Regions from separate parts of the Homo sapiens genome. Here regions 2 and 3 are each linked to region 1. Evidence: fine-mapped expression QTL. A gene starts in region 1. Each other region holds a variant in brackets. All regions are shown on one strand. Distances are between the middles of the regions.

Region 1 (10,275 bases):
CTCTGGATCCAGCTACGCATAGATGTTTGGGCCAACACATTTGCTTTGAAGCTTAAGTCCATTTGATTTGGGTTCTGTCCCTTGTGACCAAAGGAGTCTTGAGCCATGCATGGCCACATAGCTAATAAGGGGCTGCTGGTTGCACAGGCAGCATCTGGAGAAGGCTGGAGTCCAGCCCTGCACTTGCACATCACACAAATTACCACGAGCAGGTCAGTGGTCATGGCCATGGGAAAAAAAACTAGAAACGAGTGAGTTGGCTATGTTTCAATACCTGCTAGCGGAAAAACACAATGATTTCCTTTATGTTTTTCAGGGTTTGAGTCATCCAGGTCAGTCCTGGCTTGGCACATTAACTTATTGTTCCTGCCAAGGGAGATGGTTAAGATGGGAGGGTTGATTTATTTGAGTACACATGTGTCCACATCATCCTGGAAAAAAAGTAAAATGCAGATATGCTTTGCTGGCATGTGTTGTGACCCAAGAGGCCTCTTCTTGGCCTCAAAGACCAAAAGCCACGATGTTAGACATTGTTTCAGTCTTGAACTTGACCAAGCATGGGCAGGCACCTGGTATGATGGTGACATAAGGGCCCTGGGAGAGGAGAGTCCTCTCCCCACACGGTGGACAGGGTAGGAGGATTACTTTCTATTGAATAGTCTGAGACAAGAGTGGTGAGAAGGAGCCAGTTATTTGAAGAACCTAGGAAGGAGAGCAAAGCAGGTGCTAAGGAGGTGTGAGGAATGGTGGGAAGGCTAGTGTGGCTGAAAAGGGGTGAGCGAGGGGGACAGAGAACTGCCCTAATCTCTCCACCCATTTTGAGTCTTGACTGTCTGGTATTCTCTAGCACTTAATATAGTTAATCTCACCTTTTGTGCATTAATCCATCCAGTCATCCATTCCGCAAACATTTATCACACCTGACAGTGTAGGGGGTGCTGTCTTCAATGAAGGGTTCACCAAGCAGAAGGGGCAAGACACATCCCCCGCCACTACCCCCACCAGGCAGAGAAAGGCCTGTGAGCCAAGTCCTGGAAAGAAAAAAGCTCACCATTTAGGTGGGGCCTGTTGGGCAGGGCTTTGAATGCCCAGGGGGCACTCCGCCATGTGGAAAGTGTAGAAAACCTAAATGCAGAACTCCAGGAAATACTGATCTATGGGAAAAAAATTGTACTGAAATCCATGATTCTGGAATAAATCAGATCTAGTCTTATACTATATTCTAATACAGCCAAGTGGTGGCAGGGACTGAAGGTTTAAGAGAAAGCGAGAAGAGAAACACTTAAGATGGAGACTACTCCATTAATTAGCTTCATTTTTTTTTTTCTGACAACCAAGAAAAGTCCATCATTAGTTAATATTAGTGATGCCCAGCTTGGTTCAACTTAGAGCACCTGTTTTCTGCTGAGCGTCATTTGAGATCGGCTGGCATGGGCCAGAGGGAGCTGTTTCAGGGCCTCAATCAGGCAGTGACATGATCAGATTTATGCTTTGGAAAGGTCACTGTGGCTGCAGGATGAGGAGGGAAGAGACGGGTGGTTGTTAGCAGGCTGCTGGGAAAATGTACACGATGAGAACCAGAATTTGGGTAGAGACAGTGGAGATGCAAATTCCCTGAAGGCAAGAGTTTTGCTGTTTCATTCTTTCAGCAGTGCCTGGCAAGAGATAGGCACAGCCACTGGTAGATTTTTAGAAATGCCTACTGTATTGAATTGTCTGGTATTAAAAGCTACGGGACTCCAGACAAAACAAAAGTGTTGCCTCTCTCCAGAGTCTCCCTTCTTGGGAGAGGCATCATAGCTGAAGACAGACCCAGATAGGGAGTTTTCTGTTGTTGGAAATACTCAAGGTTTTGAGGAACTATTTGGGGACACAGAACACACAACTCCTGTTACCCGAACCTGGCCCGAATCTGTCTGTCAGATCTGTGCAGACGAGACATATGTTAGGCCTGGGGGCTTTTGCTGCTTGATAAGCAAACAACCATCTGTCTTTCTATAGGTGGGAGAAAGACCAATGTTAAAAGGTGTCTTTGAGATGGTTTAGCCCCCTCTTCCACATGAGTGTGCACTGCAGACACATCTGGATTCCCAAGGTCCAGAACAAGAAGCTCGGAAACGTGCTTAGATTTCCAAGTGTTCAGTTCTCAATACCATGCCATTCTCTTTGGAGTTTATGATGCCTTCCAGGGAGAGCAGAGCCCACGTGAGCTTTCCAACAGTAAGACTACTGCTGTAATAAATCATATTGCCCATTTGTGGCGCACTTACTCTATGCTGAGGTTGTATAAGGGCTTACATGAGCCCTATCTCATTTAAATTGTTTTCACCAAAGGGTGTGTGTCCCACTGCTGACCTGTTGAGCTAACCATCCCCTCTCAGTACTTGAAAACCTGCACCTGCCCAAGCCATGGCCTGGCTTCAATGGGGCTTCCTCCTGCACTGAATGAGATGACAAGAAAACAATGAAACACTTGTCCCCAAAAGTGACTTATTGGATTCGTTGGCAGAATGTTAGAAAGTGGGTATGAAGCCCAAGAAACAGGACACGGAGCCTCACCAAGCCCGAGGAGTATTACCGAATCCTAGCCCAGGCCAAGAATGAGTCACAATGAAAGCTTTTAAAATGTAAAACCATCAACCTAGATTTCAATTCCAAGGAAACACATACTTGGCCATGGGGGAATGCTTTAAAAAAAAAAAAAAATCAAGCTTAAGTCACTTGACAGGAAAATAAAACAGCCAAGGAACATTCAAATATAATGATTTACATCCTTCCCCAACTCCCTTCCAGTGTGGGTCAGGGCGAACATGGACCATGGACGTGACTGGAGCCAGGGGTGCATGCCCTCTCTGGGCTCCCTCTTGGTTAACACTATTTCAGGCACACAATCCCATACCTAAACACAGCCTGCTTAGAGCTGCACCGTGCTGCCTTTGGGGCCTGGTCAGAGCTGCACGGTGCTGCCTTTGGGGCCTGGTCAGAGCTGCACGGTGCTGCCTTTGGGGCCTGGTCAGAGCTGCACGGTGCTGCCTTTGGGGCCTGGTCAGAGCTGCACGGTGCTGCCTTTGGGGCCTGGTCAGAGCTGCACGGTGCTGCCTTTGGGGCCTGGTCAGAGCTGCACGGTGCTGCCTTTGGGGCCTGGTCAGAGCTGCACCGTGCTGCCTTTGGGGCCTGGTCAGAGCTGCACGGTGCTGCCTTTGGGGCCTGGTCAGAGCTGCACGGTGCTGCCTTTGGGCTGCTATGCCAACTTCTTGGATTTTCCTGACCTCCCCGCTGTTAGGCTCTTGGGTTGCTTGGGGTGGCTGTTTTGGGAATACCAGGATTTTTCTTCCATTATTTGTGTGCAAGCAGTGTTCATTTCGCTCAAAGAAATGGAAGCTTGATTGATCTCCTAAATGTAAGAATGAGATTGTCCTGTAATAAATATTTAAGACTGACCAGGAAAGGCGACCACCATCTGCTGAAACACAAGACCAGGAATTACTTTGCTAAGCTTCCTGAACGGAGGGAATGAATGAATAACCATCCTATATAATATTTGCTCAGCACCTGGTAGTTTACAAAGAGTTTTCACTTACCTTATTTGATCTTCACAATAACCCCAGAGAAGTAGACAGGGCGCGGATTACGAGGATTACGAAAAACCCACATTTTTTTCTTTTTTTCTTAACAGATAAGGGCTCTAAAGGCTTAAAGTCACTCGAGGGAGGTCAGAGAGTTTGGGGACTAAATCTCGAGTCTCTCATTAATTCATGCACATATTTAAAAAATATTTATCCGGAGCCTGTTCCAAGCCAGATGAGATGGCAGTGGGTACAAAGATGAATAAAACACTGTCCCTGCGTAGGAAGAAGATCACGTTCTAGCCTGGGGGAGAGCGCCAGGAAAAGTAAACAGGTCCCCCCCTGCTTTGTGAGGTGATGAGTGCTGGGGAGATAGGAAGAGAGTGGGGACCATGTTTCTAATCTGATTCTCCTACCGACGACCAGCTCAGTTGTTATTTACAAATACCTGTCCCCTAAAGGGGGGAGCGGGGTTGGGGGGGCTTGGCCGTGCTGCTGGGGTCAGAGCTCGCAGGGGGGTTCTGCCGCAGTGTGGGGACAAACTCTCCCTTATTGGGCAAATATTTCCCGGGGCGCTACGCTAAGCACACGGGCTCCCCGAATTTCCCTCCCCAGGGCCTCTCTGTCTTTGGATGGCCTGTCAGCAAGTCCCTGCAGCCTCCAGCCCGGCCCGCGCGGCGACCCAGTCCCCTGTCGCCCGAATCTTCCACCGCTGCGAAGCGTCCCCGGGCGAGCGCCCTGCTCTCCGCGCTGCGCGGAAGCCAGAGCCGGTCCTCACAGTGAACTCGCCCAGCCCTGCTCGCGGCTCTCTCGATTTTATGTGGGTTTCGTTGGATGCATTTTGTTATTTGCCTCAATGGATGTTTCACATTAATTTTTAGTTGCACAACGAACGCGCGGGAACATTCTCCGTGAGAGAAAAAGCACGGGTGGGGGGCGGTTACCGGTGCTTCCCCCGGTCGCCTGGGGGTCCCGCACGCGCCCCGCGGGTGCCGCTGTCTGGCTGGGGTCCCTGGGTGAGCCGCGGGCACCGGCTTCGCGTCTCCCCGGGCGCGACTCCGCTTTGCAAGCGCTCAGCACACGGGAAACCCTCGGAAAACACACACGTGTGTAAAGTTTGTTCCACGCAGAAACAAAGGACGCGTGGGGGCCGCTTCTGGGGCCTCGGTCCTTTGTTGGAACCCCGCACCGCAGCCCGGCCCGCAGCCTCGCCCCGCAAGGGGAAGCCGGCCCTGCACAGGCCCGGGGCCCGGAAGGCGCCGCCGCACAGCTCTGCGCCCCCGACCCGCTCCGGCCGCGCGCTGGGCCAGGCCCTTGGCCTCAAGCCTCCCGGGCGGCTCCGGGCCGGACCCGGGTCTCCGTCGCGGGACGCCAGCCTGTTTGTGGGTGCCGTGCTCGGGCCCGGGCGGCCCCTGCCCGACGCGGCCCCACGGAGCCCCTGCACGAACCCCGCCGACCTGGCCCGGGGCGGCAAGTCGAGGTGCTTAGGGCGCCCTGGGCCCGGCCAACCGTGGAAAACCCGGCCCGGGGCACGGGGGGGCGCGGGGGTCGCAGGGCCAGGGCCCAGGCAGGGAACAGAGATTTTTTTCGCGGGGAGGGGGGTGGGAGGTGTCAAAGTTTTCGGGGAACTTTTCCACTTGAGATTCCACGACCCTGCAGTGCCCCCTACAGAAAGCGGCAGCTGGGGAGGGCGGGCGCCCCCGACGACCCCCGACTGCCAGCGGCGGCGCGGCCAGGCTGCCTGGAGTTCTTGTTCCTTTTTTTTTTTTTTTTTTCCTTTTATTTCCTCGTGGTTGTTTGTCGGATACATCTTTTTCCAGAGTGGGAAAAAAAAAAAAAAAAGCGAGCGCCGCCGCCTGCAGTAGAGCGTGCTCGGCCTGCAGAGGCAGTCGTCTCCAACTTTTCCTCTCCCGCTCCAACTCCCCGCGCCCAAAACTTCAGTTCTTGGGGAGCCCAAATTTGCCTGCCGCGCAACTTCCACTCTAATTCAGCGACCAAGGGCCCTGGCAGCGGTTTGCAGCCTGGGGGCCACGCTCCCCAGGCTCAGGCCTGCTCGTTGGCCTGCTCCTAGTGCCTGGACCCAGTTGGGGGAGGCGAAACAGGGCGCCCGAGGAGCACCCCGGGAGAGGGCGGAGCACTCCCGTGCCCCGGGGCAGGAGTGCAGGGAGCTCCCGCGCCCGGAACGTTGCGAGCAAGGCTTGCGAGCGTCGCAGGGGGGCACTCGCGAGGGACGGACAGGAAGAGGGCCAGGGGGGAACGCCAGAACCCGGGACCACAGCACGGAAACGGTCCGGGGCTGAGCTGCAGTCAGATCCGGGGATGGAGGGAGCCGGAGAAGAGGAGTGAGAAGGCCGGGGAGGCAGGCCCTGCTGTCTTCCTGCAGGCCGGCAGCCTGCTGGCAGTGGAGGACCAGGCCGTCCAGGAAAGGAAGGGGTCAGGAGGTCGGGCAGGGCCTCAGCAGGTTCAGACAAGTCCCCAGAAGGGAGCTGCAGGCGCCCTCGAGTCCAGGCCCCAAGCCTGGCTCCGGTTGTCCAAAGAGGGCCTAGGCCAGGCCTCTGGTGCGGAAACTGAGTCACAGCCAGACCTCAGGGCACGGCCTAGACGCTTACGAGCCAAAGTTAGGGGTAGAGAGCAGAGACCTCCGGGGGGTCTCAGGGAGTAGGGGGCTTCAGGGCCTCCCAGTCTAGAGCCGGATTGGCGAGTTAGACGCTTGTAGATCCAAGGTTGGATTGGGGTGGGGTCTCTGGGACGTTGGATCGCTACGCAAGGATTGGGGGGATTCAAGTGCTTAGAGATCGAAGTCTGCCCTGGGTAGGGGGAGTCAGACAATTGGAAAGCCTAGGTAGTTATTTGGGGAGGGGTCTCTACGCCTTGGCGAAGCGCACAGCTGCATCTTTTTGGCTTGAGGCCTGAGGCCTTGTCGAGAAGCTTCCGTGAAAGGGTGGGCCAGCCGGGCCACGAGAAAGAAAGTGAATAAATCAGGAATATAAGTGGGCGGGGGGCCCCTGAGAGGGGGGTCGCAAAGGGTGAGACATGGCCACCAGGCGTTTAACCGACGCTTTCTTGTTGTTGCGGAATAATTCCATCCAAAACCGGCAGCTGTTAGCCGAGCAAGTGAGTAGTCACATCACCTCCAGCCCTCTGCATTCACGTAGCATTGCTGCGGTGAGTCTCCTGGCGGCCTCTCCGACACACGGACCGTGTGCACTGCGGCTCTGCCTGTTTGTCTGTCTCTGTCTGTCTCTCTGTTTAAAAAGAGAAGATAAGAATAATAAGACTAAGAATAATAAGATCTCTTGGCTAGAGTCAGGGGGCATCTGTAGCCCTGGATGAGGAAGAAGCGGTGCTGTGAGGCCGCAGCTCCACCTCTGCCCGGTCTTCTCCTCACTTCCGCAGCACCCCCCCCCCCGCACCCCCCGCCTTGGCGTCACTGCGCTACAGGCCGCCTGTAATTTACATATGTTTTAACGCTAACATTGGGAAGCATTGGGCCTTTCTGAAGCCTTTTTGTTTCGTTTTGTTTGAAGCTCCCCTCCCCCCAGTAATGAGCCTCAGTTTGGTCCTAAGGGCTGGGTCGCCGGATCGTAGACCCAAATCCTTGCAAAATGAACGACTCCCTCCCCTCAAAGAGGAGGGAGTTGTGTTGTTGTTTTGTTTTGTTTTGTTTTTCCGCCCGTTTTCTTTTAACGGCCCCGCAGCCCTCTGTGTGGCCTTGTTCCCTGTGAATAATTGCCTCACTGTTCTTCCTGGGGGCTTGCGTTTGTGAGACTCAAGGTGCTAGCCTCTTCACTTTCCATTTCCCAGACAGGAAATTAAGCTTTCCTCTCCATTCGAACTTTTTAAAAAAAGCCTGAGGAGGTATATGTGAAAATTAACCCCGTAAAATAGCACTTTTTTTTTTTAATTAACCACAACCTTTAGTTAGCCTAGCAGTAGCGTTTTTTAAGGGTGGTCCTGGAAAAATTACTGTTTGGGGTTTGTTTTTAATGGGGGCTACTTTTCCCTTTCTGAGCCTCAGTTTACTGCTCTGTTAAATAAGGGGCGAGTCTGGATGATCTATACCAGACAGTGATCGTTAGCTCTGTAATGTCTTCAATTGAAAAGTGAAGTTATGAAACTGGCTGTAGTTCAGGCTACCTGCTGTAGGCAGACTAGGTTGGAATAGAAGCAGCGTTGGAACAGGCGGGAAATAGCCATCCCAGGACCACATTCTTGGGGGTTATACTTGATATTAGGCAATTTTGGAACATTCATTTCACCTCTTAGGGACTGTATTGCCAGTTTATTTTTTTCTTTATGGCTTTATCTAAATGCTTCAGGAAAATTTTGCCATATGTCATGATTATCATGTCTACAAAGACAGTTTCTCCTTTTTGTAAGTCACAGGTGGAGAATGTCTTTGGCCATATAACTGATAGAAAAGTCATTTTAAGCCGTGTGAGCGGTTTCAGGAATAAAAGCATGTAAACTCAGGTCAAACAGCCTAGAACTAGGGACAGAGTGTGTGTGAGATTTCAGTTAATTAAGAAGTTGAAGGGTTTTTTTTACATTTATAAACGGAAAGGAATTACATTATATTGAAATAAATGTAAAGATGTCTGGTAGCATAGAAACAGGCTAATTCTAGCGCTAATTTTGAAGAAGAAATAATCCAAGAAATCGAGTAGAAATTGGATGAATTCAATTCCTTAATGGAACTTCAGTAATGTTAAATAAGAACTGCATGTTCCTTAAATGACTTGATTTTGTGCTGCCTCAAAAACTACTGAAACTCATATTAAGATTTCTAAGGTATCAGTTTTAATTGAAAAACATATTGTTTATTTTTCAATTTTTAATCATTAAGGTTCAAAATACCCTGAACCTTTGGGTAACATGAGGGTTTTTTTTTTTTTCCCGATTAAGTCAGACAGTTTAAAAACCTAGTATCTGAGACGGGAAGCTTTTTAAAAGTGCATCTCTGAATCAGACCACTTTAGAAAATTATTTTCTAAGTTAGGCAATTTTAAAAAATATTTAAGCTAAGCAGAATAATTAAAAATGGATAGTTAACGTATACAGTTTGGAAAAATAGATATGTCAGGGTATATACAGATACATTTAGCTAACTCACAGTTTTTTGAAAATAGATTTCTAAACCCAACTAAAAATACATTTCTAAGAACGTTAAAAAATGTTTTCTAAATGTCATACCATTGAAAATGTTAATATTTATATTAGTCTGACCATTTAAAATCTTTCTCAGATCATTGAAAGCAGTCATATCATTTAAAATATCCTTATAGTCAATCCATACTATCTCAAAAATAGGTTTTGCAGTCTAACAAACATAGTTTGCCTGAATTCAAATTTAAAAATAAAACACAGATTTATATATTTTAATTGTGTTAAAAAATGGCATGTCATAAATTTCTGAAGTATTTAGGGTTGAAGTGTTACATCTTCACTTTGCTTACAGGTGATTCGTAACAAAATCTATTCTGCACACAGTACGGCGAAATGCTAACAAGACTAAATAGAGGTTATGATTTTTTCAACTTTTCTGGAAGTTGGAAAAGCTTTATAAACATTTTGAAGCAAAAGCCATGTTTAACACAATTTGTAAAATCTATTGAGTAACTCTTAGCAATGCTTTTCACTGCATATCTAGCTCACAAAAAATTTAAAGCCTTGTTTCTGACTTGTAAATTTCAAAGCCATGTAGCAAACCAAACAAAATCGTATCTGTCAAATTTTGAATATGGACTAGGTATTAGGTGACATTAAGGAATTAATTATAATACATTACATTTGCTAATTTTATTAGAGATGCCTACTGAAATGTTTAGTGGTGAAATGTCAAGGCATCTTACCTAAGTCCTTAAACCCCTCCAAAAATAGAGGAAGCAAATAAGGCAAATTGTTACTCATTGTTAAGTCTAGTGATGAGTATGTGTGCGACATTTTACCATTTTGTAGGCTTTTCTGCATGTTTGAAAATTTTTAAATAGAAACTTAAAGTAAGTATATTTGTTATAGTAAAGTAAAACAGTTAAAAAGAGGCAATTTGTAAATACATGTCTAACACTCAGGCAATTTGAAAGGAAGAAATTAAACCTAAGTTTAACTTAATTTAAAAAATAATAACCTGGAATTTTAAGTTTCCAATTAGAAGAAAAAGCTGTAGACTTTGATCTTGATGCATTTGATACCAACTAAAAATACACCTAAAATAACAGACTTTTTAAAAAAAAAATTGTAATCCTGAATTTTGACATCTTATTTCAGGAAAAAGCTGCAGAAATTAATTGCAGAGTAGTGTGTATCATACACCTCAAAGCAAAGCACACCTAAAGCCATGCCATTCAAAAAATTTAAACATGCATTTTTTGCATCCTAGTTTGAGGGAAAAAACTAGAATTTGGTTGTTGTAGTGGGGTTATTGTGTGTCCCTGTGCGTGCATACAGGGTTTTGCAGCATTCAGGCAAATATGTCAAATAAACAGGAATTTAAGGAGGATACGCAGTGACCAGATAAACACAAAGCCTCAAGGGCCAGAAGGAACCTAAAGGTCATTTGGCCTAATGTCCCCATTTGTGATAACCCCTCATGCCTATCTTATTTGGCCATGGTGTATGACAATGATGGAAAATGCCAGCAGCTCCATGATTTTTACCACTAAAAAGTCTTTGCCTGTTAATCCCAACTATTTGTGTCCTGGGGTCCTGC
Region 2 (10,275 bases), 56 kb after region 1:
GGGGGAGGGGCCCAGTTTGGGTCCAGCCAGCCCTCTGAGAGGTGTCATGGGGTGGGGGGCGGCGAGGTTTCTGGGGGTTCTGGGTTGGGGTGGGTTCGGGGAGAGTGCGCAGGGCGGGTTCCCATGTGCTGAGGCGACAGCTTCACGTGGCTCCCTGGGTTTCATGCCCACCCTTCAGAAGGGTCTGGAAACAAAAGCCTGGCCAGGGCCCAAGAGCAGCCCCGGAAATGACGGAAGAAATGGCAAGCAGGGCCAGGGAGGCAGGGCTTGCTGCTTGGGGGCTTTGTCCCGAGAAGAGAAGGGCAAGGGGACGCCTGTGTCTCTGAGTCTGCCCATGGTCCCCACTGAGAAAACGCTCAGAGTGGCCACACAAGACCCTCCAAAGGCACGTGACCCCCAAGAGCGAGGGGAATCTGGGCACGGCACAGAAGCGAGTCACCCGGGAACATCCCGGTGCGGTGGCCCTAGAAGCCTGTCCCGTGGTACGGCTTTCTGTCCTGCCATCCCAGGAGGACAGGTGCTTGTGGAGCCCCCGTCGTGGCCGAGTCTGCCCGCCCCAGCAAGCCCTGCCCTCCTCCGCACCATCTCCATCCATTCATCCTACACACCGTGTGAGCAGCCTCTGTGCTCAGGCCTGGGCTGGGAAGGACAGGGAGGGAGCAGACTGGGAAGTACATACCTCAGGAGGTCTGGAAGGAGCAGGGAGTGCATCCGCAGCAGACACTGCAAACTAGCAGCCTGCAAGGCTCACGGAGGCCTGGCATTTTTAAAATTTGAATTAGCTACCAATATTTGAAACCAGGAAGGATTCTCATCAAAGCCTGGATTTCCGGCCTTTTGTGCACTCAGAAGGTCTGCCAGTGCTGGCGTTCTGTTCCCGCCTGGCAGCATTCCCCTGCAGCCAGTGGGCCTGCCCCTGGTGTCACCCATTCTCCAGTTTGGTTTGCGGTAGGCCCCACCACTTGCTGCTGCCTTCCTGACACTGAGCCCTAGTGTCAGCTGCTGTTCAGGGTGGCGCTGGTGCAGCTCGCCGCGCTCTCTAGCACGCCTAGTTTATTTCATACCTGGAGAGGATGAGCAGTTCCCATCCCTCCTCTAAACCACAAAACTGTTTAGAACTAAGCAGAAAATGACACTAATCATAAAAAGGGTTTTTTGTTTTTTTTTAATAGAAAAAACATGCCTCCCTATGGGTCTCTTGGGGTAATAGATGGTGGAATGAATGTTTGTTTCTGGCTTTGGGTCTTAGCATCTACACGTTTGACAATGGTTTCATTTAAATTGATCTTCTTTACTAATGTATGTTCAGTAGGCAGAGTTGCCAGCTGTCTTCACTCATAGTTGGTCCAAGAATACTATCTGTTAACTTTGATTTTGAAGAGCTCCAATCTCGTGAGGCAACAGATACACAGATACTTAGGAAAAGTCTTTAATACGGTATCATTTGGCAGAGATTCTTAAAAATCCCATTTCACAGTAAATTCCAGCAATCACAACACCCACTGTGTGTTCAGTTCTTCAGGGTGGATTCTTGTGGCTTTCAGATGTCTGCAGAACAAAAGCATTTTGGACACAGTAACTCCAAGTGTTCACATGGAATGAGGGAAGTGAAGGAACGCAGGTTCCGCGTCTTCGTTTTGACCATCCCGCACTCTCGTGTTTTATTTTGGGTCCTCTGTTTCGACACCGGGAGGTAGGAAATCATGGGCCCTGGAGGCCCCGACTGTGCCCAGAGCCAGCCCACAGGATCTGACTGTCAGAGCGATTCTCAGAAGGAATGTGGGTAGTAGATTTTGTGTCGGGTCATTGCTAACGTCCATGTAATGTTACTTTCAGGATAAGTAACAACGATATGCGAATTTGAAGCTTTTGTTTGTGTGATTAAAACGCAACCGTAGCCACAGCAATTTTTTAAACTTCAATCAACAACAGATTTTCGGAGGAGGAATATGTTATTGCTGACTTTGTTCAGAGATACCGGCACACGGTGGTAATAAGCAAACTGACTTCTAGTCGGTTATGATTCCTAAATTCGCCACAGATAGTGCACCCCCTACTGCCTGCACCTGGTACTGGCTGCTCCCACCCTCGCACGCACCCTCAATACCCACGGTCACCCTGGAAGCCGCTACATTCTGGCTGGTAGAGTCGTGGACCCTCTTCTCCTTGGATCAGATGCTTGTTTTTGATGTCGGCTTGTTGTGGACCAATGTGAGAAGATGAGCTTCCTGGGAATTCATTCGTTTGCTTGTGGCACTAACTCTAGTCACTTAGGGAAAATATCGTTGCACCTGACTTCATCTCATGTGGCTGTGGGTAGACCTGTGCAGTTAGTCAGCTCCCGGCCTGGAAATTAACACAAAGGAAAAACCTGACCACACAGGCCTTCCCTAGAGGCCACAGCTGCACAGCCTTCAGGGAAGCTGTGGTCTGAGGGTGGCTGGTAGAACTGCCAGAGAGTAGGGCATTTTCCATGGCTCCAGATCACCTTCTGAAAATGCGACTATAGCCCCTGCCTATTCCCGGGGTCCACCTGGTCTGCAGACCCCATAATACCAGGAAGAGCTGGGTGTTCTGGCACCAGTGAAACAATACCTGGTTTTTTATTTTAAACCAGCCCATCTTCCCCGCTGCAGTTGGAACCGTTCTACGTGGATTTGGGATCAACCAGCAGGCCTTTCCTGAGCTGTTACTGTGTGGAGTGGGCGCTGAGGCTCCAGCCATTGATGCAAAGACCCCAATCCTGACCTGAAGGCGCTCACAATCTCTCCCCAACGGCCTGGTGTGAAACGCAGACGCAACGCAGCAGGCATTCTCCCCAGTGGCTGCCTGTAGAGCAAATGGTGCAGAAATGGTCACTCCTCAAAAAGCAAGCCGGCTGGAGCCAGCCCAGCTCCCAGTTTTGCAAGAAAAAAAAAATCACAGCTCCATTTTCAAAGATTTCAAGGGCAGCTCAAGACCAGCCTGGACTAGCAGGCCTCAAATGCATTACTGGAGACCCCTTTACGCTCTTAACAAGTACCGACCCCAAAGAGGCTTTTTGTATAACAATGTCTATTGATATTTACTCTACTGGAAATTAAAAGTGAGAAATTTATAACATGTATAATTCATTAAAAATAACATATAAATCCATTGCATGTTATCATAAATAATTTTATGAAGATAAGCATCTTCCAAAATGAAAAAATAATTTACTGAGAGAGTAGCATTGTTGTACATTTTCACAAATCCTGTCAGTGTCTGGCTTAATAGAAGACAGCTAGGGACCTTGCGTCTGCTTCCGATGTAGTCTATGGAAATGTGTTGTTTCAGTTGAACTGTATCAAGAAAATCTGGCCTCACGCATTTTATAGTTGAAACAGGGAAAAGGATTTTAGTACCTTTTTCAGCTAACTAACTATGAACATTCTTTGCTACTACACCAAAACTCAACAAGTGGTAGCTTCTTAAAGGCTGGTTATAACATGGAATCTGAAGCCTCATGAATAGACTTTTGGGCTCTGTGGCAGTTAAATCCGCTGTTCTCTCTCACTTTGAACATGTGGTTTTTCATGGAAAAATGAATGTTCACTTGAAAAATGTTGGTTCACAGAGTTCTGCAGAAATTCAAATTTTTGACACATTACATTATATAGTATCAAAAAATCACTTAATATCACCATCCATCTCATCAGAAAACTCATTATGAGGAAGTTGTCATGGTGATAGGAGAAAGTTTTTCAAAATTCTGATTTTTGCTTAAAAGCTCAAATGTATACCATTGGCAATAAATAATGTCAGCTGTTTCTGGAAGTAAGAGGCTCAGTTTGTTCCTTTTCTGGGAAATATCTGCCAGATACCTAAATCCAATTAAATGCCATTTGTCTGTCAGTTTTTCTTTCAAGTAAAGATGGTGTCGTGGCCAGAGTGGCTCATGGAGCTCAGAACTCCCCCAGCAATCACAGCTGAGCTTCTGCTCTGACCGACCACTGCCCGTCAGCAACAGCAGGAGTACATTATGAGTCACACGGAATATGGAAAATGTATTGTACCCAAGGGTTGAGAGTTTTAAAAATTAATTTTACTGCTTCAGCAAGGAAATTCTAACGTGAAATTGGCATTGGTTCATTTTCCCAGAGGGCACGGAAACGAATACAGTGGCTCCCGGACCTCTTTGGGACTGTGGCCTGATACTCCAGCACAGGGGGTGTAAGTGTCAGCCCCGTGAAAAAGGCAGAGACCGTCTTAAATCACTGCGAAAATGGTTTCTTCTATAAAAACAGAAACAACATATGGGGGCTGGTGAAACTTTGCACAATCAATCAGTTGAGCTGTATTTGCAAGCCCAGTCCTGGCTCCACCTGCAATTGGGAAGGAGCTGGCAGCTGTGACGGGGGAGACATGGTGTACAGTGAGCAGCCGTTTCCAGGCATTGCTGTGTGACCCATTTTGCACATGGTTTGATTCCAGATCGGAGGCCCTGTTTTTCCATTTAAACAATCCTGTGCTTTCTCAAACAGATTAGCTCAGAAGAGATGGCTTATTTTCAGTAGTACAAGATGGGTCATTTTCACTCAATTATAAAAGCAGCTCAATTTACATCTAAAAATACTTTGCACTAAAATTCAAAGCTTGTGTAATAAGATAAGGGTTCAAAAATGATTCAGTAAATTTCATACCCAAACCTTTACCTCTGAGGACCTGCTGTTAATTTAAAATATGAACTTGTGAATTTGATTTGGGAACCTGTAAAATGTAAAAATGTGTAACACTGTCAACCAGCGTATAGGAAACAGTGTGGACACTGCAGGAGAAGGGTGGCCCCTCTTTAGACCCAGGTTAACCAGGAGGTGTGAACTATTAACCAGGAGGTGTGAACTAGCAGGAGGGCAGAGGTGGCCCCTTCTTCTGGCGATAGACCTGGCAGTGACATGAAGGAGCGACAGGTGTCCTCACTGCTGGTGGTGTCAGTGGGGGTGGATGTGACTGATTTTGGCGAAGAGTTCACATCAACCCTCACCATCATTCAAGGTTGTGATGAGGGGCAGAGAATGCTGAGCCTAAGTCTCGTTAGGTGGTAAAGCCCTCTAAGTGCCAGGGAGAGGAAGCTAGGCCCTGTTCTGGGGGGCGACAGGTGGCCAGGGCAGGTTTGCATTGCGGCAGCAGCCCCTCAGGCTTCCTCCCTGCCATAAGCACACTAGGAATCTGCAATGGGTGCAGGAAGCACGCAAGCCCACCCAGGTCCCTGAGGTGCTGGCCAGGGACCTCCAGCAAGCCCCAGAGGCTCCCTGGACCTCAGCTTCCTTCTCACGCTGTGCGGAGGAGTGGAGAGAGTGGCCCTGCAGACAGACCCCCAGGCGGCGTGGCAGCCCGGGACTGAGGTCAGGGTGCCCGGCGTCAAAGCACGGGGTCCCTGTTTCAATGTCAGAGCC[C/T]GGCCACAGCGAATTCTGCAGCTCCGGGCATCTCCTCGGGTTCCCCCTCCGTGCAGTTACTGTTTGATAACCCCAAAGTTCTGTCAAAACAAAAGGGAGCCTCACCATCTATGGCCATGACTCCCTGTTGCTTCTGGAGAACACCCCACTTGGCCAATATGAGGTTCATGAGTTCTGTGGGTGCCCAGGAGGCCTGGTGTGGGGGCTGCCCAGGCCTGAGAGCTGGGGAAGGTGGGGCTAGCGTGGGGCCGGGTGGGGGTGGGGGGCTTCCGCTGCCAGGCCTGGACCTCACAGCTCACCTTTGTCCTGGTCCCTTTGTACCACCCGCAGACTACCATGCCGGGGATGAAGCGAGACTGCGGGGGTGCTGCGGCCGTCCTGGGGGCCTTCAGAGCCGCAATCAAGCAGGTGAGTGGGCCCTGCCCGCCCTCTGCAGGGGCATCCTGGGTGTGCCTCGTGGGTGCTCCCCTCTCCCCTGTCCGTCCCGCCACAGGCCCCACCAGGGTCCTACCCGAGTCTCCCCAGCGGATGCTTGTCCCCCCTCTGCCCCCAGGCTCTTCTGGGGCCCCCAGAGCTTCCCGCCTTCATCAGAGCTGCTCTGGGAGGCCCCGAGGGCAAGGTGCAGCCATGTTCTCTGCTCAGGGCCTGCCTTGGCTCCAGAGCCCCATGAGCGGTTGGCTCAATGAGGAAGCCTGGCCTAGACCCTCATGGCATGTGGCAGGCAGAAGCTCATGGCAGGGGCACACGTTGTTCTGCGTACCCCTCCCGCAACCCTTCTTTGCAGCAGAGCTGCCTCTGGTGACTGGTCTCACCAAGTCACCACCTCCAACCCCCAGGCCTGGCCAGGCCCCCTTCCTCTCTTGCGTGGGCAGGTGCCCCAATGCTTAGCCCTTGCTCAGTGGCAGTAGTCACTCGGGGGGCGTGGGGGGGGTGGGGGGTGACCTTGAGTGACCTTCCCATGGAGCCCAGATGTCCCTGGGGCCATAAAAAGTGCTTATTAAACAAATGAAGAGGCCAGCTCATGCTGGTAATCCCAGAACTTTGGGAGGCGGAGGCAGGAGGATGGCTTGAAAGCCAGAAATTCAAGACTACCCATAGCAACCTTGCAAGACCCCGTTTCTATAAAAAAAAATTTAAAAACTAGCCAGGCGTGGTGGCGCGCACCTGTAGTCTCAGCTACTTGGGAGGCTGAGGTGGCGGAGGATCGATTGAGCCCGGGAGGTTGAGGCTGCAGTGAGCTAAGATCCCACTGCTGCACTGCAGCCTGGGAGATAGAGCGAGACCCTGTCTAAAGAAACAGGCCAATGAGGAGTGTGCATTGACTCATCAGCCGAGGTTTTACCTTCCTAGCCTACCTTTCTCAGGCCAGCAACCCAGTTCCTTGGGGTAAACTTGAAATGGAAAAACAAAAAGGCCTTGGCAAGTAGTTTCCAATCTGGAGGGTCCTGCTCCTGGCCGTGAGGGAGGAGGAGGAATCCCAGGAGGAAGGAGCTCCTTCTGCCGGGGCTTCCCAGCTGGCCGTGCACATTCCAGACTGTGTGACGGGCTTCTGCTACCAGGCCCAGCCGGTGGGGACACGGAGGTGCGGGGCTGAGGCGGCCTGGGCAGGAGGGGCTGGCAGGCCCTCACCTGTGCTCTGCACGGGTTTGGAAACGGCCTCTTAGGGCTCACGGCTGTTTCTCTCGTGCTGAGCACACAGCTGGGGCTGTACGCAGCCTGCAAGCCCCATGCCTCCATGAGCACCTGCCGTGGCCCGTCCACTGCAGAGCCTGTCGGAAGAGGCTGGAGGAGGAGCATGTGTCCTCTGTGCGCTACTCCTTCACTGGTTATAAACTACCAAGGGACACGGCTGGCACTCAAGGAGGGTCTTGACTGCCCCAGCATCATAGGCCACGGGGCAGGGTGGCTCTGGGCTCCCACTACCTGGCCCTCCTCCTTGCCTCTGCCCAGGCCCCGTGGCTTTGGCAGATGGGCTCACCAGAAGAATGCTGAGGCGGACGGGCCCAGCTGTGCGGTGCTCGCTGGGCAGCTCTCTCTGAAGGGAGCAGTTGCTGCTCTGGGGTGGCACGGGGGCAGGGGTGGGCAAGTGGTTCTGGAGGAGCCGTGTGGCCAGCCCTCTGTGGCCGTCTTTGCCGTTCACCCCTGGTTACTCCTCCAACAGAGGGTCTGTCCTGCCTCTGGGACAGGCTGGCTGGGAATGCCCCAGCAGGAAGACTCTTCTGAGCTTGAATTCCCTGTTCACAGGAAGCCACTTGACAAATGATCACAGATTCATCAGGCAGCAGCCGTGAGTGTTCTCAGCACTCCTCCACCTCTAGAGGTGCTGCGGCCTCTAGAGGTGGAGGAGCACCTCTAGATTTGAGGGGTGCTGAGGACACCCCACCCCCACTCTGGACAAAGATCCCCCTCCCACAAGAGCTCCAGCCTGGAGGCTCCACTGTGAACGCGAATGTCCTGCTTGGCCTTCACATATCCTTGTTGGCCTCTTAGAAAGGAATACGCCTCTGTCTGAGCCACAGAATCAATCCTCAGGGTAATGCATTTACCCAGAGAATAAAATCAGCATCCACGTGTCCACACTGGTAGGAATAGATCACTGAAGGAATAAATGAATGGGGGAGAACCGTTTCTCACACTGAATCCCAGTTTCAGGCTGCAGAGGTAGTGATGGAAACAGGAAGTCGTCACCCCACAGCCAGGCTTCATTCCAGGTGAGAGTGGCCCACAGTGCTGGAACTGGAGCATGAGAGTGGGATGGGAAGAGGACAGTCAAATGCTCTCAGAGTGCCTCTCGCAGCTTTATAGTGGTGACACTCACAACCCAGCCTAACCAGGTGTCCCAGGGCATGTCACCAGGGCAGGGACAGAGCCACCTGACATGCCTCCAGAGGCAGTGTACAGGGAAGGACAGAGCATTTCTGCAGGATTCCCACCAAAAATGCATGGCCTGCCTGTAGTCACAAGGACACGTCAGACAAACCCAGCACTGAAAGTGCCAAGGCCACAAAAGACAAAGCCAGACTATGCAGTCGCCCAGATTAAGGAGGGCAAGCAGGCCAGGCTTGATGTGTGGTCTGATCTGATCTGGACGTCTGAGGAGCACATGGAATCTGGATGGTCCCGAGAGGTGATGGTCCTGTGTTGGTGATTACTACCCCCTGCTGCCCATTGTCCCATGGCTGGACAAGATGCTGACATTGGCAGAATCTGGGTGAAGGGTGTTGAGGAATTGTTTGTGGCTTTTTTTTTTTTTTTTTTTTCCCCGAGATGGTGTCTTGCTCTGTTGCCCAGGCTGGTGTGCAGTGGTGCGATCTCGGCTCACTGCAACGCCTCCCAGGTTTAAGTGATTCTCCTGCCTCAGCCTCCAGAGTAGCTGAGATTACAGGCATGTGCCACCACCCTTGGCTAATTTTTGTATTTTTAGTAGAGACAGGGTTTCACCTTGTTGGCCAGGCTGGTCTTGAACTCCTGACCTCAAGTGATCCGCCCACCTCAGCCTCCCAAAGTGCTGGGATTCTGGCATGGGCCACTGCTCCTGGCTGTTTGTGACTATTTCTGCAATTTTTTTGTAAGTTTGAAATTATTTCACAGTGAAATGTTTTGAACTTTTTAGAAAGAGGATGTACCATTCAAAGATGGAAGGGTACGCCAGGAGCTCGGTGGCCCTGGGCTCTGGGGGTGTTAGCGACCCTCCAAGCCTGGCACCAAAAAAAAAAGCCCCTGACCCACTTACCAACCCAAAACCCTTGGCCGCCCTGGGGGACCAGGCCCAAGCCCTGGCGTAGCACTGGAGACCCTTCCCACGCTGTCGCTGAAGCACTCACAGTCCAGCCCCATCTTTGGCCACCCTCTTCTGTTAGACCAGCAAGTCCCAACTGTGCCAGGTAACACCCAGGAAGTGTGTGAACATTGACAGCTCCAGGGCTCACCTCCAGCTCTGCTGAGTCTTGGATTTTTTCAGCCGCTCCTGGTGATTGGAGAACACCTCCAGACTGGCCGTGAGGGCCGCAAGGGCAGGGCCGTGCCTGTGCTGTCTCTGTCTCACGTCTTCCAGCCGTGCAGACCTCAGCACTGTTTGCCCCAGGACTGCAGCTCGCTCGTCTTCTAAGCCAGCACTTCTCAAGTGGGGTCCCCATGTTGTTAGTAATATGGGTTCTCAGCTCTGCCCCAGACCTGCTGGATCAGAAATTAGGGGCAGGGCCCAGCCTTCAGCGGGTAGCAGCCCTCCCTGGGAGGCTGAAAGCATCCATTTGGGAATCCTCCTCCTCCCCGCTCCTCCCTCCTCCCCCCCCGCCTCCTCTCCTCCTCCTCCTCCCCCCCTCCTCCCCCTCTCCTCCTCCTCCCCACGCCCCAGCAGGCTACAGATCCAGAACTCTGCTTTCTAGGAGGACTTCAGGGCTCCCCTCCTTTGTTGGTGGAGCTCATCTCTGTGGCGTCCATGGCCTGGAGCCCCATGGCCTCATCCTGTGACCTCAGGGTCATGCTGTCATTTATTCGTTGTTCCTAAACACCCACTTCTCCCTGGAATGACCACAGGAGGCCTCAGCACAGGGACAGGCCGTGGTCACTGTACACACAGATGGAATGTCAGTGCTGGGGTATCTGGGGAGGAGCTCTGAGAGGAGGAGGCTGAGGGTCCTGAAGCCCCTGCCCCGTGTCCCTGACACAGGCTGGGCTGCGAGAGTGGGAGCGGGGGACTTGGGGCCCTTGTGGAGCTGACAGGTGGCTCCGATATCATCACCCTGAGGCTGGTGGGGTTCTTTCCCCTGTGCTGCGTGGGGGTGCGGGGCCATCTGTGAGGCTCAAGGACTGAGCGGGGACCCAGGGAGGTCTCAGGGACTCGCAGCTGCCATGCCCAGCA
Region 3 (10,275 bases), 24 kb after region 1:
TGAAACACTTCCTCTGCTGGCACCACAGGTTTCACCCAGCAGACCTTTTCTTCCCAAATAGTGCAAAGCCAGATTTCAGCTCTCTTCTCATTCTAATCACCCTGTAAACTGGGTTTTTTAAAATTGCCCTTGCAATCAATAAAGTCCCCACATACTCCAAAAAACCTAGTTCTCCCTCCCTCTGACAACTGGCATATTTGTATTTTAATTTTATTATTTCCAAAATTTGATTAGGGCCATATGGAATTCATACTAGAGATGCTTCTAGAGAGAAATACTGATTTTTTAAAATGTTTTGTAACAGCAGTTAGATTAAATATTTCTGCTTCACTTAGAGATTCTCAGATGGTTGTGTCATTTTTATCTTGGCATCAAGTGAATTGTGCACATTTACACTGTGACTTTTGTCTTGAGTAATCCCAAATGCCTGCATATTGTTGTATGTTTGTAATCCTTTACTCTCCCTCCACCCCCATTGGAGATAGGCTTCTTTAAAGCGGCTAAGAATATCTCAATTTTGACTGTTGGAGTTTACTCTAGAATTCCCCCTTTTAATGGTAGAACAATACTCAGGATGGTTTACATATTCAAGTAAAATGAATTCCTATCTGTGATAGGCATGAAGAATCGAGAGGAAAGATCCCAGCATTTTTTCGACACATCAGTACCACTAATGGATGATGGAGACGATAACACTCTTTACCATCGGGTACGTGAACGGGCTGCAAAGCTGATTGCTGTGTCTGTGCACCCCATTCTGCATCTTTCACCTCCTAGACCTCGATCTTCTGTGCAGTGTCAGTGGATTGATACAGTTGACTTGTATATTCATCAGGTTGTTTTGCAGCAGGTGGAAGAACAGCCGTACTGTTTCTTCCTTTCCAAAGGCCACAGGGAGACCTTGTAATCTGCTTTCCAGAGCCTTTGGGAAAGTGGTCAACACCCTGCCTTCTTAGGAAGAGCCCAGAGAAACAGAGGGCTATCCCGGGGGTTTTGTTTATCTGCCCTTGTGGAGTTGGCAGACGTGGGCTTCTGTCTTCCCTGCTATGGCCTCAGAGCTTTAGATCCTGCTGGTTTAGGGAATTTGAATCTTTCCTGTTAGGGAAAAATGAGTGCTTACTGTGCTTTGTAGAAATATTTTCAGAATTCATTTTCTTTAAATTATTTTCATTGTCTTTAAATTATATCTAAACAAGTATACCATAGCTTTCCTGAGAGGGAAAACAATCTATCCAACACATTGTGCACTGTCTTGCTAGGGTTTTACAGAGGACCAGTTAGTTCTGGTGGAGCAGAACACACTGATGGTGGAAGAGCGGGAACGAGAGATTCGCCAGATTGTACAGTCCATTTCTGACCTGAATGAAATATTCAGGGACTTAGGGGCGATGATTGTAGAACAGGTACGTGAGCTGGCCTTCCTCGTGAATAGGTTTTCCTGCCATACTATCTGTACCTTCTTTTTCCTGTACTCCTTTCAGGGAAAAAAATTGGAGCCAATTTTCCCAACATGTGTGTGCACCTGTCCTTTATGTGTGTGTGGGTGTGTGTGTGTGTGTGTGTGTGTGTGTGTGTGTGTATATTAATATTAATCAAATATTAAATTTGATTAATTTTAAAATAATAGGACTAGTGTTGAAACCTCAGTGTTTACATTTTTTACTGAAGTCTCCTGGGTGCTAATTATCAGAGGAGTGTGGTGCTTTGAGAAAAGCCCTGGGGGGTTGGAATGTTGGAACCCTGGCTCTTAGCAGTTTAACAGTTACATGATTCTCATTTAATCCCTCTGACTCTAGTGTTCTCATCTGTAAAATGGGACTAATAATCATAGTACCATCCTCATAGGATGCTTGTTAGGGATTAAATGAGAGGAATGCAATAATAATATGATATATGATAATACAGGTTGAACATTCCTAATCTGAAATCCAAAATGCTCCAAAATTTGAAACTTTTTTTTGAGTGCCAATATGACACTCAAAGGATATATATACATAGCAATCCTAATCAGAAAATATGAAGTTCAAAATGCTCCAGAATTCAAAACTTTTTGAGTGTTAACATGATGCCACAGGTGGAAAATCCCTACACAAGACCTCATGTGACAGGTTGCAGTCAAAACTTTGTTTTATGCACAAAACTAGTAAAAATATTGTGGCCGGGCACGGTGGCTCACATCTGTAATCCCAGCACTTTGGGGGGCTGAGGCACATGGATCACCTGAGGTCAGCAGTTCGAGACCAGCGCGGTCAACATGGTGAAACCCCGTCTCTGCTAAAAATACAAAAAAATTAGCTGGGCATGGTGGCAGGTGCCTGTAACAGCTACTCGGGAGGTTGAGGCAGGAGGATCGCTTGAACCTGGGAGGTAGAGGTTGCAGTGAGCCGAGATTGCACCATTGCACTCCAGCCTGGGCAACAAGAGTGAAACTCTGTCTCAAAAAATATATATATATATATTGTATAAAATTACTTTCAAGCTATGTATATGAAACATTAATGGTATATGAAACATAAAGGTATAAGAAACATTAATGAATTTTGTGTTTAGACTTGGGTCCCATCCAGAATATCTCATTATGTGTATGCAAATATTCCAAAATCTAAAAAAAAAATCCCAAATCCAAAACACTTCTAGTCTCAAGCTTTTCAGATAAGGGATACTCAGCCTGTATATGTGTGTATTTACAAATTATATACATAGGCTACTGTCATTCCCTATAAGAATATTAATAAATCTTTTTTTGATAAATGAAGTTCTAATATTCTCTTCCCATGCCTCGAGGGTACTCATGTGAGCACCCTACTCTAGAGACCTAGTTGACTCTGACCGAGCTCAGCAATGATTCTGACGCTATAGAAGATTTCCCTTCTAATTTTGGCAGGTTATTGTGTAATGGCAATTGGAACCACTAGCGTTCAAGTAGAATTAAATTGTTGTTCACCGTTAAAATCTGATTAGGGCATTTTATTATCTTGCCAGCAGGGATTTGGGTCCTGATCCCCCTGAAACCAACTGCAGAATGGAGTGTTCAGGCTCTGGAAGATCCAGTTACATTAATTACTCCAGTGGTTCCCAGTGAACTGCTATCTCTTCTAATCCAGCATGTTTCCAATAAAAGCTCTGTTCTTCCTCATAGCCCAGTGTCCCCGTCTTCCAATTTAATTGTTTAAGAGATTAAACAATTAAACATCTTCCCCTTGAGTCCAAATTTTTAATTTTAGGTGGTAGACTGGAGTTTACCATTTCCTGCTCTGACCCATAGAGATGTGGATCCACGTTTATAGACGTGATAGTCAATTTGCAGGTCTACTTATGACAGGGGCGAGCTTACCTGGTGTTCTCTGCTTACTTGAATCCAAGTACGTAGGCAGCAAATGGGCGCAGAGCTTCTGTGCTGCTCAGAGCCTCTGTCCACTGGACCATAGATTTCTTAGGGCCCCAGGAAGTCCGAATATGGCATTTCTATGGCAGCTGAAACCAATAAGGAAACCTCAGTCTGTCAGTACTTCTTTCTCGTGAGCTAGATGTGATGGCACTAACCAGCATTCTGCCATCGAGCTCCTGACACTGCTTGAGGGTGAACTCCAGAGCCCTCCGTGTGTACCTGCAGCACACAGGGAAGGAAAACATCATCTTATGGATGATGATGTCTGTAATTTGCATATCTCATTTTTGACGTTCAGTTTTCCCAGTTGCTATTGTTGATTGTCTGTAACTGTCATTTATTACCTAGGGTACAGTCCTTGACAGAATTGACTATAACGTTGAACAGTCCTGTATCAAAACTGAAGATGGTTTGAAACAGCTTCACAAGGTAATATGTCTTTCAAGACTTGGGAATCTTAGGAACTATTTTCAAATAATCAAGAATTGGTAAGAGGGTTCTTTTCCACCATAACGATCTTCAGCATTCTTGTGTTGTCCACTCTCAATACAGTAGTGTAAAAAGGGATTCATCATTTCATTTAAAGCCAATTGTGGGGGCTGTTGCCGTTTTATTGCAGTTAATGATTCCAGGTGTATCTCACACTTAAATCCAAAATTGCTAAGAACTCCTTTTTGTGACAGTAAATTCTAAAGAGATTGGAGTTCTTTCTTTTAGAAAATATTTCATTCTTTTCTAATGCTTCTTGTTTTAGGAAATCAATTGGGCATTTGCTAAAATATGTGTTGAAAATCTGTCTGCTTGTTGCCGTTGACTTGGGCCTCTCTTGTGATACATTCCTGATGAATTGCTGATGGAGAATCATTCTGCAGAAGATAAAAATCTAATCTTCTCTTTAATTACCACAGCATATCTGTATTACCTTGAGAAAAGAGAAGTTTGTTGAAGTGAGAGTAGTAATTCTTTTATTCTGTGCTAATAAGGTAGCTGTTTCAGGGATGTTTTTATGATATTCTCTTTTAAAAAAATAGATGGAAAGCATCTTAGGAATCTTATCGGTTATAAGAAACATGCATAAACGGCTGAGACTCTCATATATAATTGGTTACGTATTTTCTTTAAAAGGAATATAACAATACTTCACAAATTAAATAATATCCATTTCCTTGTATCTTTGAGACCCAGTGGAGTTTCTAGCCATATAATGAGTGTTTTGCCAATTCACTGTTGGACTACTCTACCATTTTTCTGAAATCAGTCGCTTCCTATACCAGAGATCGCCCCATTTAATAGCAGTATTGGGTTTACAAAAAGTCAGCCCTTGCACTAGTCTAACCAGAAGCCCTGAGCTGTCTTTTCAGGGGGCTTGTTGCCATGTGTAGGTGGATATGAGACTCCAGCCTGTGGTGGGAAGAGAAGTCTGACCTTGTCT[A/G]TGCAGGGTTTTTTTAAGCATTTAGATTAATTTGGTTGCCAAGCCCTGTCTATTAAAAGTGAAAACTAACTTAAGTTTCTCACTCTGTAATACCCAGGTTTTGATGTGCTGCTGAATTATGCATTGGTTTTGAAGTTTCTTAAATAAAAACTAGTGAAATATGTTTTGTAATATAACACAGATAAAAGGAAAAGCTTTCTCTGCGGGAGTGAGCAAATCTAGTGGGAACTAAAAATTTTGTTTTAGGTTCTACTTTATAAATCATTTTGAGAGGTTTTACAGTATATTATTTAGTATTGGCTTCCCTGGTGTTCTGGGTTACTTATTAGAAAAGTCAGCGTGCTCCATCTTCCCTCCAGCCACAAGGCTGTAGGCAGCACGCGCGTGCTCGGCAGTCGGCTAGTCTAAGGGTGATTGAGCGTCGGGAGCTGCTCCCCATGACCGGACTCTCGGTGCTGTCCCCGTGCCTGATGTTTCCTCCTGGTGGATGAGGGGCTCCTCCAGGTGGGCGGGCAGGCTCACTTAGGAAACAAGCCCACCGCGGGGGATGGAGCAGGAGAGATTGCCATTCTCGCCAGGGCTGCCTTCCCGCTGTCTCCTCCTCCCTCCTGTGCCATAGCAAGGTCTGGAAGAGGCAGCGCATGCTCTCCCTGGACGTGCCTCCCGGCGCCCTCTGAACTCTGCTGTCCTCTGGCTCTCCTTTCTCAGTGCTCTGCGTCTTTCGCCAGCCAGGTGGGGCCCTTTGGCATTTCTCTAGCAGGCATGATGGAGTTCCCGCTCCTGCCGAGCTTCCAGGATGCGGTGTTAAGGTGAAGAGATGTGCAGGGTGCAGCCTCGTCCCCAGATTGAGCTTGGAGGGCTCCTTTGCTGTATCGTTAGCGGCACTGGGAGGACGCGCCTCAGAGGGATCTTTCTGCATATGACATCCATGGGGCACACGTGTCTGTTTTTATTTCAAAGGATGAGTTTTTGTTTCCAAATTTAGGGGAGGTCGAAATGGGGCCTCTTCCGGGTGTCTGTTGCCTACCTGCCAGGTACGGTCCTCCAGCCCGTTGTTTCCTTCCGCGGTGAAGGAACTGTGCATTCGCTCCAGGAACACGGACCGGGAACAGGCGACCCGTGCTGCAGGGGCACTTGCCACGGCCTGCAGGAGGAAAAGCCGGGAGAAGCAGGCCCAGCTGCACCCGGAAGCATGAGCTTTCACTTCCCTGTCAGGCTTTGTCTTAGTAGTAGGTTTCCAACAAATCCATTTCCACGTCCAGGGTAAATAAGCAGCACCAGGATCATGGGGCTCTTCCACTCCTGGTGATTGAATTCCGTGGGATTGATTGGAGGGATTACAATCATGTAGCCTGTAGCAGAGACCTCAGTCACTGTGCAGAGAGATCTGGAAGCCTCATTCTGGAAACGAGTGGGACTTGATTTGGGATTTTGGGGAAAATGACGGCCTTTTTTCCCTCCTCTTTTTGTAGGCAGAACAGTATCAAAAGAAGAATCGGAAGATGCTTGTGATTTTAATATTATTTGTCATCATCATTGTGCTCATTGTTGTCCTCGTTGGCGTGAAGTCTCGATAAGTGGCATTGGGTTTTCGTGTGTGCCGCGCGTGTGGATCTCCCGGGTGTGAGGGGCTTGGCCTGCGCCCCGCCAGCTGCCCGCAGAGGTGCAGCCTCGAGGAATCTGAGGGCGTCGGGGCAGCGAACCTTTGCATCCACGGACTCCTCCTTCCCTAGTCCTGCTCAAGCGGTCCGGGGAATGGGTTTTTGTTTTTCCTTCATTGTTGAGAATTTAAGGACCTTTGATACTGCTGCACAATAGAGATTGAGTTCTGGGATCAGTTATAATATATATTTTTTTTAGAAAGAGAAAATGAGCTGAGAGTTTACAGGCACTGCAGAAGCTGTTCAGTATTATATGTGTATATGCTATTTTTTTAGCAGCCATGTCTGAGCAGAATGTTAACATAATTTTTGGAAAAATTTTCTTTAAACCATCTGGTTTTTAAGAAATTTGGTACCAAAAATTGATGAGTAGAGGCAAAAATGCCCCTTCATCTTTCTCTATATATTTTCCAGTTGAAAACAAACTAAGAAGTCCTTTAAGAATTTATAATCCGTTCCCCATTAACTTAATTTAGCTTTTCCATCACTGTTAATGATCAGAGTAACAAAGTGTGAAAAATAAGAAACCATCATTGATGTTAATTAACACATTTAGATGGGCCAGTTAAAACAGCTTCATAAGTTTTAAATTAATTGTAAATGGAATATTCCTCATTTAAAATTTTTGCACTGCATTTTCTACTGTAAACCAAAAGAGGTTACTAAGCAAAACCACCTAAATTTAAGTTGGTGATTTAAATGAATCTCACATTAAAAGAAAGCTTGACAGTGTTATGAAAGCCACCAGACTCAGCCAGTGTGTCCCCATGGGTATCCCCAGCCATCCTTGCTCAATCCATTACTTATATACTAACTACATAATGACCTGTTCAAACCAGACTCTATTTAATGAACTGTGAATTTACACAGAGGCCATTTTAAATGGGTCACCCCATTTAGGATTAGTGGATCTCAAATTATTAACCAAACATCACTCCATTTCAAAGTAAAATATTCCACCAGCGATTTGATTTATTGGCTCTTCCATTGCCACTGAGCAATGCCCAGGAAGCAGGCACATTGCCAAGGACTGGGGGCATCTTGACTAGGAAGCTCCTCGTTTGTGTGAGCGTGGGTCAGACCGCCAAAGTAGGACTTCATCGTTTACCTACCTATTATCAATATGGTGCTTGAATATATTCCTATAACTGTAGAACAGTGTGGAAAGTGATGGTAACTTTGAAGTTGTTCATGTTTTATTGGCTTTGTTTTAATTGACACTAGTAGAGTTTTAATGGTCTTTGTGTAAATTTTAATGGCTTTTCCATTGTTTTTGCTTCTCTTAAAAAGTTTAAGAAGAATATGACCTCATTAAATGTGCTGTTTTATTTGGACCAGTCACACAAAATGTCTCTCTAGAGTTGACTTTAAAGTTGTTTACAGAAATTTAAACTCAATTCCAGAGATTGAAGTTGTCCAAACAGCTCATGGGCTTAGTGTCCAAACCCCTGCCCAGCCTTCCCTTTCCAAGTTGGTGCCACCTCCAGGTAGCCATTGGTGGTTTTCCTATTACTGATGTGGCTGTGGAATGATAAGGTCCTAGAGGGGCCCTGGCATTTCAGGAAGCGGACCTGGTATTCCCTGACAAACATTGCTTAGGAAAGAGGGCCGGAGAATAAGAAGCCAGCACCTCATCAGTCAGCCCTGCAATGTGAGACTTCCGTAGCTGTTGAGAGTCACTGCAGGTGTTCTTTCATCCCATCTGATTTTAACCCATGGTTGAGACGTTCCAAGTTAGATCTGCTGCTCTTAGGTGTGGGGCTGTCCACATTAGGGAACTTGCCTCAAAAACAGTCCACAGTGGCAATACCGGACTTCTGTTCAAGCTTTTTAAAGTGCTGAGCCTTACAAACCCCTGAAGGAAAGTGACCCTTTAAGAGAGGATCATCTTTTTTTATATTTATTTTCACCAAATAGGGTGATGAGGGTTGGTTTTTGTTCCCTCAACCCATTTGGGTAAAATAACGGATCTGATTAGAAACTGTTTTAAGGAGGGGCTGGGCTCGGTGGCTCACGCCTGTAATCCCAGACTTTGAGAGGCCAAGGCGGTCACGAGGTCAGGAGTTCGAGACCAGCCTAGCCAACATGGTGAAACCCCGTCTCTACAAAAAATACAAAAATTAGCCGGGTGGGACACGCCTGTAATCCCAGCTACTCAAGAGGCTGAGGCAGGAGAATAGCTTGAACCCGGGAGGCAGAGGTTGCAGTGAGCCGAGATCACACCACTGCACTCCAGCCTGGGTGACAGAGCGAGGCTCCGTCTCAAAAAAAAAAAAAAAAAATTGTTTTAGCGCTGGGTTTCCCAAGGTGGGAGAGACAGACCCAGCCTGGAGCTGGCCCCTGGCCTGTGTGCTGACTTCTTGGGGTCCTCAAACCACTGTATTTTTCTGTTGAGCCTGTACTTGGGGAGAGATCAGTAGCATTTGAGGAAGTAAGAGAAAAGAATCATGGTACCTCAGGGTTTCTTTCCCTTTACTCGCTGGCAGCCATTGTCTGTGGGCACCTCATGTTTTTCCACACTCTACTGGGCCGTGGAGGTAACGATCACCCAGGCCAGTCTCCTCTGCCTGGGATGCGCCCTCTGAGAGGAGGCCTAGCAGGGCAGGCTCCCTCTGGGCATCCCTGGATGCAGCCTCTGGACACATGCCTCCTTTAAAGTGTCCGGGTGCAGCTCAGGTTGAGTGGAGGTAGAAGGAGAAACAGACATGTTTACCACGCGTTTTCCAAAGCTCCTGATCTTTCCCAAGATTGTAACTGAAAACTGCTGTCTCTTGTTTTGTTCGTTTTGGGGGTGGTGGTGCTGGCTGGGCCATGCTTGTGAAGTGATGTGTGTCTCTGATTTAACGGATTCACTGTTTTCTCTGCTAATTGAGAGAGCGTTATTTACATTATTTATTTGTTTTGACACAAGTGCTTTCAGTGTTTTATCCTAGCTAATGGCTTCTTAAAGGTAATAAAACCCTTCCAACGTAATTGGTCAGATAAAACTTTTTTTCTTGTATGCTTAAATAAAGCAATTAGTGAAGCACTTCTATCCAAAATGACTTTTTTGTCCTTTTTTAAAACCAATTTACTGTTACTGGAAACTTTTTGTACAATAAAGCAATCACGCAGATTAAAGAACATCCTGCAATCCTAGTATTAATTTTAACAATGGGTTCATGTTTTCTTCCAGTGCATTTGTGTTAGGGGAGGGCTTGGCCAGTTTTGTGATCCTCTGGGCCCCTGACTCTGTTTTGTGCCTGAGGCCTTTGCCTCAGTGTCCGAAAGTAGATCTATCTAATGGATGCTTTCAAAGGGACAATCTATTTACTATCTGATATACAAAAAGAACAACTGCCTAAAAGGCAGATAAGTATTTTTCTTATGAAAATATATGCTTTATATACATACCAAGAAACATTTGGAAATCTCCAAATAAAACTGTGATGTGCCTTGTTGAGAAGCAATTCTTACACACAGGCTGTAAGAGACTTGACTTTCTAAATGATTTTGTTTCCTACTCTGTTACACCAAAAACTTGAGAGACAAGTGTCTGCCAGTTTAACTCAAAGCCAAGACTATGTTTCCCCTTGATTGTGCCTGTCCTGGGGTCCTCCGAGGAGGACCTTTGTCCTGAAACTTGACTTTGATGCATTTGTTTTGCTGGTGGGAGATGTGGACCTGAGTGATGGTAGGGGTATGTGGTTTCATCACCAGAACCTATACAAACAAAAAATAGCAGCTGTCATGCCAGGTCTCTTTGGCACCCTTGGCGTTTGGTCCTGAGGTGTTGCGGCGACTCAACAGCAGAA

Evidence for each region. PIP is the estimated chance that this variant, and not a neighbour inherited with it, causes the effect.
Region 2: its variant is the best candidate, but not a certain one, in a credible set for the expression of STX16 in whole blood (TOPMed, PIP 0.86).
Region 3: its variant is the best candidate, but not a certain one, in a credible set for the expression of STX16 in whole blood (INTERVAL, PIP 0.84).

The regions. Positions count from the first base shown.
Region 1 is chr20:58,645,408-58,655,682 of GRCh38, forward strand. It overlaps STX16 (syntaxin 16), which reads left to right and starts at 5,876. Exons shown (of 9, transcript NM_001001433.3): 1 at 5,876-6,731. The coding sequence starts at 6,600. STX16-NPEPL1 (STX16-NPEPL1 readthrough (NMD candidate)) reads left to right here and starts at 5,846. Exons shown (of 23, transcript NR_037945.1): 1 at 5,846-6,731. LOC107985410 (a long non-coding RNA gene) reads right to left here and starts at 4,228. Exons shown (of 3, transcript XR_005647058.2): 1 at 3,582-4,228. RefSeq lists silencers at 2,086-2,380, 4,779-5,138 and enhancers at 3,068-3,605, 6,635-6,904, 6,742-7,245.
Region 2 is chr20:58,701,379-58,711,653 of GRCh38, forward strand. NPEPL1 (aminopeptidase like 1) reads left to right here. Exons shown (of 12, transcript NM_024663.4): 7 at 5,745-5,822. STX16-NPEPL1 (STX16-NPEPL1 readthrough (NMD candidate)) reads left to right here. Exons shown (of 23, transcript NR_037945.1): 17 at 4,120-4,191; 18 at 5,745-5,822. Among named protein-coding and RNA genes, the nearest start is that of NPEPL1, 14 kb to the left of the region's middle. RefSeq lists enhancers at 123-655, 656-1,187. The variant C/T (reference allele first, on the strand shown) is at 5,415.
Region 3 is chr20:58,669,895-58,680,169 of GRCh38, forward strand. It overlaps STX16 (syntaxin 16), which reads left to right. Exons shown (of 9, transcript NM_001001433.3): 6 at 618-709; 7 at 1,260-1,403; 8 at 3,737-3,817; 9 at 6,293-9,632. The coding sequence ends at 6,397. It overlaps STX16-NPEPL1 (STX16-NPEPL1 readthrough (NMD candidate)), which reads left to right. Exons shown (of 23, transcript NR_037945.1): 6 at 618-709; 7 at 1,260-1,403; 8 at 3,737-3,817. Among named protein-coding and RNA genes, the nearest start is that of NPEPL1, 18 kb to the right of the region's middle. RefSeq lists enhancers at 1-92, 93-750, 751-1,406, 5,933-6,458, 6,459-6,983 and a silencer at 1-60. The variant A/G (reference allele first, on the strand shown) is at 4,821.